Homo sapiens: one gene and its partner. The protein of the gene in region 1 interacts with the protein of each later gene in a biochemical or structural test. Each region holds a gene or a part of one and is shown in the gene's direction. Other genes may lie near its edges.

Region 1 (3,915 bases):
CAAGGATCTTATGGGCTTAAAGGGAATGGAGTTTCAGGGAACCACAAAATCTGTGACTGGAAGAACCCACAGCTCCTATGAGCCATTCTGAGTACTCGTGATCTGCCTTATTCGTGACTTTTCCCATCGGTGCCCTGGGGAGCCCTGCAGGACAGCTGGGCCCAGTTCCTCTGGGACCTGGGAAGCCTAGAGCAGGTGGATGCTGAACAGAAGCCTGCCCCTCCTTGAATGGAGATCCAGGGCAGGGATCAGGAAGCCCTAGGCAGGTCTGCAAGGACTTCAGGGAAAGGGAGCTCTATGCAGAGAGCTGGAGAGACATCAGCAGGGAAGGGCTAGCAGGTCCCTTTTGAGACCGCCACGTTCTCTGTCGTCTCCTGTGTCCTCTTCTGCCCACCTGGGCGTGTGCTTCCTCTCAGCATCCTTCTCTCTCTGTGGGCCTGTGTCCGTGCCTGTGCCTAACTGCATGCCCCCACCCCCATGGTCCCTGTCCTGGGCTTCAGCCCTCCTCCTCGCTTCTCTGTCACGTCTCAGCTTCATTGTCTATTCTCTTCTACTTCCTGTCCTCCCACAGGCTGCCTGCCGACACTACGGCCACTGTCGAGGACATGCTGCCTTCTGTCACCACCGTCACCACTAACTCTGACACTATCACCGAAACCTTTGCCACTGCTCAGAACAGCCCCACCAGTGAGACCACCACCCTGACCTCCAGTATTGCCCCGCCGGCCACGGCCACGCCTGACTCAAACTCTGTACCGGCTGGCCAGGCCACCCCTTCCAAGGGGCCCAGCGCCTCTGCCCCCTCCCCGGCCCCAGCTTCAGCCCCCAAGGTCGCCCCCCTCGTTGACCTGAGCGACACCCCGACCTCAACCCCTGCCGCTAGCAATTTGTCTTCTAGTGTCCTGGCTAACCAAGGGGCTGTCCTCAGCCCAAGCGCCCCTGCTGGTGTCGGGGAGGCCTCTAAGGCTCCTCCGGCCAGCAAGCCCACCCCTGCACCAGTCCCCACCCCGACTGGGGCAGCCAGTCCTCTAGCAGCAGCGGCTGCCCCTGCCACAGAAGCCCCTCAGGCCAAGCAGGAGGCTCCCAGCACCAAAGGCCCGGACCCGGAGCCCACCCAGCCCGGAGCCGCGAAGAGCCCGGCCGAGGCAGCCACAGCCCTTGCTAGCCCGAAGAGCGAGGCTGCCTCCGTCAGCACCACAAACCCTTCCCAGGGCGAGGACTTTAAAATGGACGAAGGGAACTTCAAGACCCCAGATATTGACCTTGCAAAGGATGTTTTTGCAGCCCTGGGCTCTCCTGCTCCCGCCGCTGGGGCCAGTGGACAAGCCCCTGAGCTTGCTCCTTCCACTGCAGACAGCTCTGTTTCGCCTGCGCCAGCAAAGACCGAGTACGGCCTCTCTTTGTCTGCTGTCATCGGGTTGTGTCCTGTGGTGGTGTGCATTTGTGCTGTGCTGTGTCCTCCTTGTTAGATGTGTCTTCAGCCTCATCCAGGGCTTCTCTGAGGCGACCGTCAACCAAGGGGCTGGGATAAGGCAGAGAGAGCAGGACAGGCAGCTGGGCCCCAGGAGCAGCCGCCTGCTGGCTAATTAGGCCATGTTAATTATGTTTTATCCTTATCATCCTAGCAGCGGCTTCTGTTTTCCCTGGGGGAGCCCTTGCAGTCAGGCCACTGATGAGAATAGCTTGGGAAGCAGGCTAAGAAGGCCAAGGTGCCCTTATCAGCCACCCTGGGGCCCCCAGTCGGTGTGTTATTCAGTGCCAGGCTGAGTCCCTACCAGAAAGGCACTGATGTGCAGGAAGAAAAGAGGTAGGCCCCAGGCCCGTGGCAGGGGAGGGTGCAGTTCAGAGGTCCCCTCACACTGTGGCTCAGATGCTCACCCTCCCCTCCCAACCCCGGCCCCCAGCCCACTCTTGCTTCTCCTGCTCTTAGAGTGGCTGGGAAGACTCGGGGCTCCCCAGCATCAAATGGCTGCTGGGTCTCAAAGTTCAAGAGAAAGGCCTTAACCTTTCAGGTTTGTAAGTGTCTTGCCAAAATTCAGTGGCACCAGCTGAGGCTGGGGTCTGTGCCTGTCCCCATGCATCCTCAGACCCGACTCCCTTTCCTGGAACTGATGGAGGCAGAGTCAGACCTAGATTTTTATAGAGGCTCCTATGGCTGCTCCCCAGATAAGCTGCCATGCTGCCACCATGGGCTGCAAGGGGCTCTCGCCAGGAGCCCTGAATCTCAGCATCGGGAGGGAAAAGGACTCTGATAGCCCTGCCCACTCAGCTGCCCTCAACTCTCGCATAGCCACCAGGCCCACTCTAGTACCCCACCAGGCTGCCATGAAAAGCTGCCTCCATCAGTGTTTTCTCACCCTACCCAGGCAGGCCCTAGAGGCATCATCCTGCAACAGCACAGGGTGGGGTGGGGAAGGGACAGGCAAGAGTGGGTTGCAAAGGGGCCCCTGAAATCAGTGCTGGGAGCCCAGCCCAGCCCAGCAGGCTGCATTTACATCCAGCTGAGCTGTTGCCACTGCAGCTGGTCAGGGTGAGGAGGAGCTGCCTCTGCTGCCCCCTTCCACCACCCCAGGTAAAAACACAGCCTCTGGCATCAACTTAGGGCTGGAAGAGGAAAGGACTCGTTCTTCTGACTCAGTGCTTCTCAACTATGGCTGCACATTAGAGTCACTTGGGTGCTTTTAAAAGTCACTGTGTCCGGACCAATTAAATCAGGATTTCCGCGAACACAGCTCGGGCTTGGGTGATTTTTAGTGCTCCCAGGTGATTTGACGGGCAGAGGTTGGAGCCGGGTGCTGTCACTGGAGAACCCCTCCTCCTCCCTGCTGTCCCCAAGGCCTGGATGCAGGGGCGAGATGTCTGCAGACCGTGGTCTCAGTGGTTCTGTTTTCCTGATTCTCTGCAGGAAGGGCCCCGTAGAAGCAAAGCCAGAGTGCCAGGAGACAGAAACGAAGCCAGCGCCAGCCGAAGTCAAGACGGTCCCCAATGACGCCACACAGACAAAGGAGAACGAGAGCAAAGCATGATGGGTGAAGAGAACCGAGCAAAGATCAAAATAAAAAGTGACACAGCAGCTTCACCAGAGCATTTCCAACACCACAGACACACACACGCACGCACACACACAAACACACATGCACACACACACATCTCATTTCTCTAGTGTCTTTTGCCTTTAAAAAAAACTAAACAGATAAAACATGGGAATCTCCTTTTTGTAGGTTTATAGAAAGGGTCCCTTTGTTGCACACTCACTTGTAAGAAAATGAGACAAAAAGGTTAAACCCACAGCCAAACTAGGACACTCCGTTCCCTGAAACCGTTAAAAAATCAAACAAAAGGACCCCAAATTAAGAATCTAGGAAGCTCAGAAACGAAATCTAGGTTCAGGAAGACCACACTTGGTGTTACCCGATTGGCACAGACCAGTTTCAGAGAAATACTTTCAGGCACTAAGACTAATCGAATGAACAAAGTCCACAGTTTATTTTTATACTTTCAGTCAAGTTTGAACTCTGTAAAACCTCATAAATAAGTTATAATTTCTGTTCACTTTGTATTTGTTCAGTATGCAAAGTGTGTCACCCTTTCTAGCTGAATTCAATTCCCACGTAGACTCTTATTTTATAGGACGAATGCCAAATTGCAGCTTCTGGGGGTAGATCTCAATTTGCAGTATTCAGACTTCTTTTTCTTTCTTTTACATTCTTTTTTCTTTCTTTCTTTCTGCCAACTTTGTTTTCCAGTGTTTACAAGGTGACAAATGTTTGACTTTGGTTGTGTTTAAATGTCCGTGTAAAATAGCTGCCTTTTATTTTTTAAGGTAACAAATACCACCTAGAGGTAGGTAGGATCATCCCACGCTTGCTTTAGCACAGGACAACTTTACAAAACATGATTGTTTACAGCTGCTCT
Region 2 (3,915 bases), on another chromosome or scaffold:
ACAGCAAGCTTACCAATCTTCTCTAGCACTGGGGAGGGGAACTGCACCCAACCCTTAACAGGCCAGCTCGCTGCCGATTGGCAAGAGGAGGGCCTCACCCAATTCCAGTCTACTCCTTCTGCCCTACCAGCACACTTGGGCTCAGGGAACAAACCCAGCCTAGAGCACTCCAGGGCTTAGGAGGTGGGAGCCCCATTTCGTGGCACCTTGATTGTGGTCCTCATTGATATCCTCAGTGGTGGCATTGCCCTTCTGATGAGAATAAGTAAGAAGATGATTCCTTAGGTTATTGACCATGCCATTGAGACTGAGAAGATGATTGAAAAGTACAGCGGGCTAGCCTCGGACCTGCTCACCTGGATCGAGCAGACCATCACTGTCCTGAACAGCCGCAAGTTTGCCAACTCGCTGACGGGCGTCCAGCAGCAGCTGCAGGCCTTCAGCACCTACCGCACCGTGGAGAAGCCGCCCAAGTAAGGGCCCTGGCACATGGGAGGGTGGTCCTCAGTGGCTGGGAAACTGACCACCAAAAGGTAGAGCCAGGTTCTGGGCCTTATGAAGTGTGTCCACAAGGCACACCCTCAAGATTAGAGAGCTGTATGTGTGTCACCTGCCTTGTGCCCCTCTTCACCACTCTTCTCCCAAGCCATCAGCTTAGAGAAACCAGCATTGATGAGAAACCTCGACTCACGACCAAAGACAGTGGCTTCTCCCAGATATCCCTGAGGAGGAACAGGAGGGAAATCATAGGCTTCTGAGTCTCTTTGAAGAACCCAGGCTGGAAAGCTCCTCTCTGGTCTGCCACTGAGCTGTGGGCTTGTTTTCTGATGACCTCTGTGCTCTCAGCCCCTGAGCTCTCTGCATGGGGCCTTATGGATTGTCAAGTTCATCCTTCTTTTTCTCTCCCATCTGTCACTGCTCAGCAACAGACCACTTAGCCTGCTTCTCAGGACCTCTGCCCCACCCTAGTGTGTGCAGAGCCTGTGTGCATATGCTTACACACATGTGCATGCAAACAACCGTGCACACACATGCATACCTGCATACACATAACCATGCATACACACAACTGTGCACCCATGAACATGCATGCACACACAAACATACACACACAACCGTGCACTCATACACATACACCTAACTATACATGCATTTATGTGTGCACACATAACTATGCACCCATGCACATATATATGCACATACAACCACATGTACAAATGCACATACATATATACAACCATGCATGTGCACATGCACACACAAACATGCACACATACACACATACACACGGGGCATTCCAGCTTATCTGCCATTAGCTTGTCCAGATCCTCTGAAATAGGCTTCTAGCTCATTGATGGTACCTTCTGCTCTGCTCTTCCCCCCATCTCCCACACTCTGCATTCATGACTTTCAAATGGGGAAAGGTGAAATGCTGAGTCTAGGATATACTATAAACAAGTATCTGGTTTCTAGTCTGACAGTAACCCATTTCTGAAGCCCTAAATCCAATACAGTTAGCATCCTCTATGAGTCTACCAGTCACTGCACACAGAGGTGTTATCTCTTGGCTGTGTAGACAGTGCTTCACGGTCACAGTTCTCTTAAGTGCCTGTGAGCACTGAGATCCATTAGGCTGGGCTCAGGGTGGGGACCTTGCATATAGCTGATCCTTGACTGCCAGGTCAAGGATGCAGAAATGGGTGGACACTTAGGTACATGCAGAAATGTGGAAGTACCTGATACCTGGAGCCTGTACCCCATATGCTAGACACCGATCCTGCTGACAATTCTTGTCTCCTACACCTACAAGCCTCTCAGAGCCCAGCCTTTCCTGCCTTCTGGGAAGCATCTGGCCTGTAGGACTTGTCAGGAGATCTGGCTCATTAGGACCTGGGTGAAAGCTGTTTTCAGTGCAGGATGCTCTCCCACGGAATATGCTGCTTCTGGGGTTTTATTGACTCACTTAATAAGGAACTGACCAGAGAGCTAGTAAGAAGCCCTCATCACTTGCAGCACAGAGAAGGTTTTTTAAAATTTTTTTTGTATTGATCCGTACAACTTGATATTTACAGGAATTACCAGAATACCTCAGCTTCCCATGTAGAGGCAAATGATAAATGCTGTGGTGGCCATTGTGTTTTCTCTGGTTTATATTGTAAAGACCCAAACCCCTAATAGATCTCAGTTGGTGAAAAGGATAGATGTTTTAACAGGTAAGCAGACCTACAGATTCTCTTTAGTTTTTCTGTGTTTTTAAGGGAAATATGCTTTGCTATCTACGCTTCAAGATGCCACAGTTCCGTGTTGACTTTAGCAAAAAAATTTGGCCATGAGATCTTAACATCAGTCTTCCTACTTCTGTTTTCTTGACAGGTTTCAAGAGAAGGGGAATCTGGAAGTTCTACTTTTTACCATCCAGTCCCGGATGAGAGCCAACAATCAGAAAGTGTACACACCCCACGATGGGAAACTAGTGTCTGACATCAACAGGGTACCACAGCATTTTCCGTTATGCATTGACAGTAGATTGATTGAATTCCCGATAAGGACACAGTGAATGGTCATTGGACCAGATTAAACCAAGCCACTTTCTTTGATGTTATTAATCCACATGTTGACTATTTGGGGGAGTTATCGAACCTGGTTCTGAGGGGTCAGACTCTACTCCCCCACCCTCCTTCAATCCCCCTGTTCAGATGCCCTGCATCCCTGAGTCCTTTTTTTTTTTTTTTTTTTTTTTTTTTTTTTTTTTGGAGACAGGGTCTCACTCTGTCACCCAGGTGGTAGTGCATTGGCACAATCACAGCTCACTGCAGCCTCGTCCTCCTGGGCTCAAGTGATCCTCCCACCTCAGTCTCAGTAGCTGGGACTACAGGCATGCACCACCACACCTGGCTAAATGTTACATTTTTTATAGAGACAGAGTCTGGCAATGTTGCCTAGGCTGGTTTTGTACTGGGCTCAAACAATCCTCCCACCTTGGCCTCCCAAAGTGCTGAGATTACACGTGTGAGCCATCACACCCAGCCTCCGAGTCCATTTTTTTGGAGCCAGTTTTGTAGCCTATCCTCTGTAGAACCTTGAGTTTGTCTTTGAAGATGGAATATTAACTACTTATAACCAAAGGGAAATGCCTATGACATTTCAGAGGCTTGGAGGCTTACCACCACCTGGCAGTTCATATTGAACGGAGGTAGCCATTAGTCAATAAGAACTTACTGAGCATCCAGAGAGGTGAAAAACATTATTTTGGGCCAAGAGTCTGAGGCAGGTTTAGGGGAAGAGGGAAGTGAGACTCATGAGCAGTGCCCTCTGAATCTTTGATGGGCCCAGACATGAAAGCCAAAGGCTTTTATTGATCTTTAATCTGCTACCACGTCACCCAAGAGCATCAGGCTGTACCTTGATTCCAGAAATCACTCAGTGTTGGGTGAAAGGGGTGGAGCCCCCAAAGTGAGGCATTTCTCCTGTGCCCCAAGAATTCTCATTCCATCCTTTGTGCAGGCCTGGGAAAGCCTGGAGGAAGCTGAGTATCGGCGGGAGCTGGCCCTGAGAAATGAGCTCATTCGGCAGGAGAAGCTAGAGCAACTGGCCCGGCGCTTTGACCGGAAGGCCGCAATGAGAGAGACCTGGCTCAGTGAAAACCAGCGCCTCGTGGCCCAGGTAATGAGGGACATGCTTTGGGTGACAGGAGAGGGGACATTCTTCAGAGCCCCCAGCTCTTGGCTGGGCTGGAGTCCAAGCTGGCTTCTCACAGCCTCTCCTCGTGCCTTGCAGCACAGCTCCCCCGTGATCCAGTGGATCAAGATTTGCATCTGGGGAGGAGCTCTCCAGGATTTATTAAATCTCATTTTTAGGAAAGAGCCTTGGAGTCTAGAACTGGCCGCTGAAGTTGTCTTATGTGGGCCTGTAGTG

What was found.
Region 2: the proteins of NCAM1 (region 1) and SPTB form a complex in vitro, tested with the Homo sapiens proteins (one study listed by BioGRID).

What each region holds. Positions count from the first base shown.
Region 1 is NC_000011.10:113,272,362-113,276,276, forward strand, and holds part of NCAM1 (neural cell adhesion molecule 1 isoform 2 precursor), read left to right. Parts: intron 1-571; coding exon of another isoform or gene 572-1,387; exon of another isoform or gene 1,388-1,540; intron 1,541-2,905; coding exon 2,906-3,026; 3' UTR 3,027-3,915.
Region 2 is NC_000014.9:64,796,305-64,800,219, reverse strand, and holds part of SPTB (spectrin beta chain, erythrocytic), read left to right. Parts: intron 1-285; coding exon 286-473; intron 474-2,373; coding exon 2,374-2,491; intron 2,492-3,504; coding exon 3,505-3,663; intron 3,664-3,915.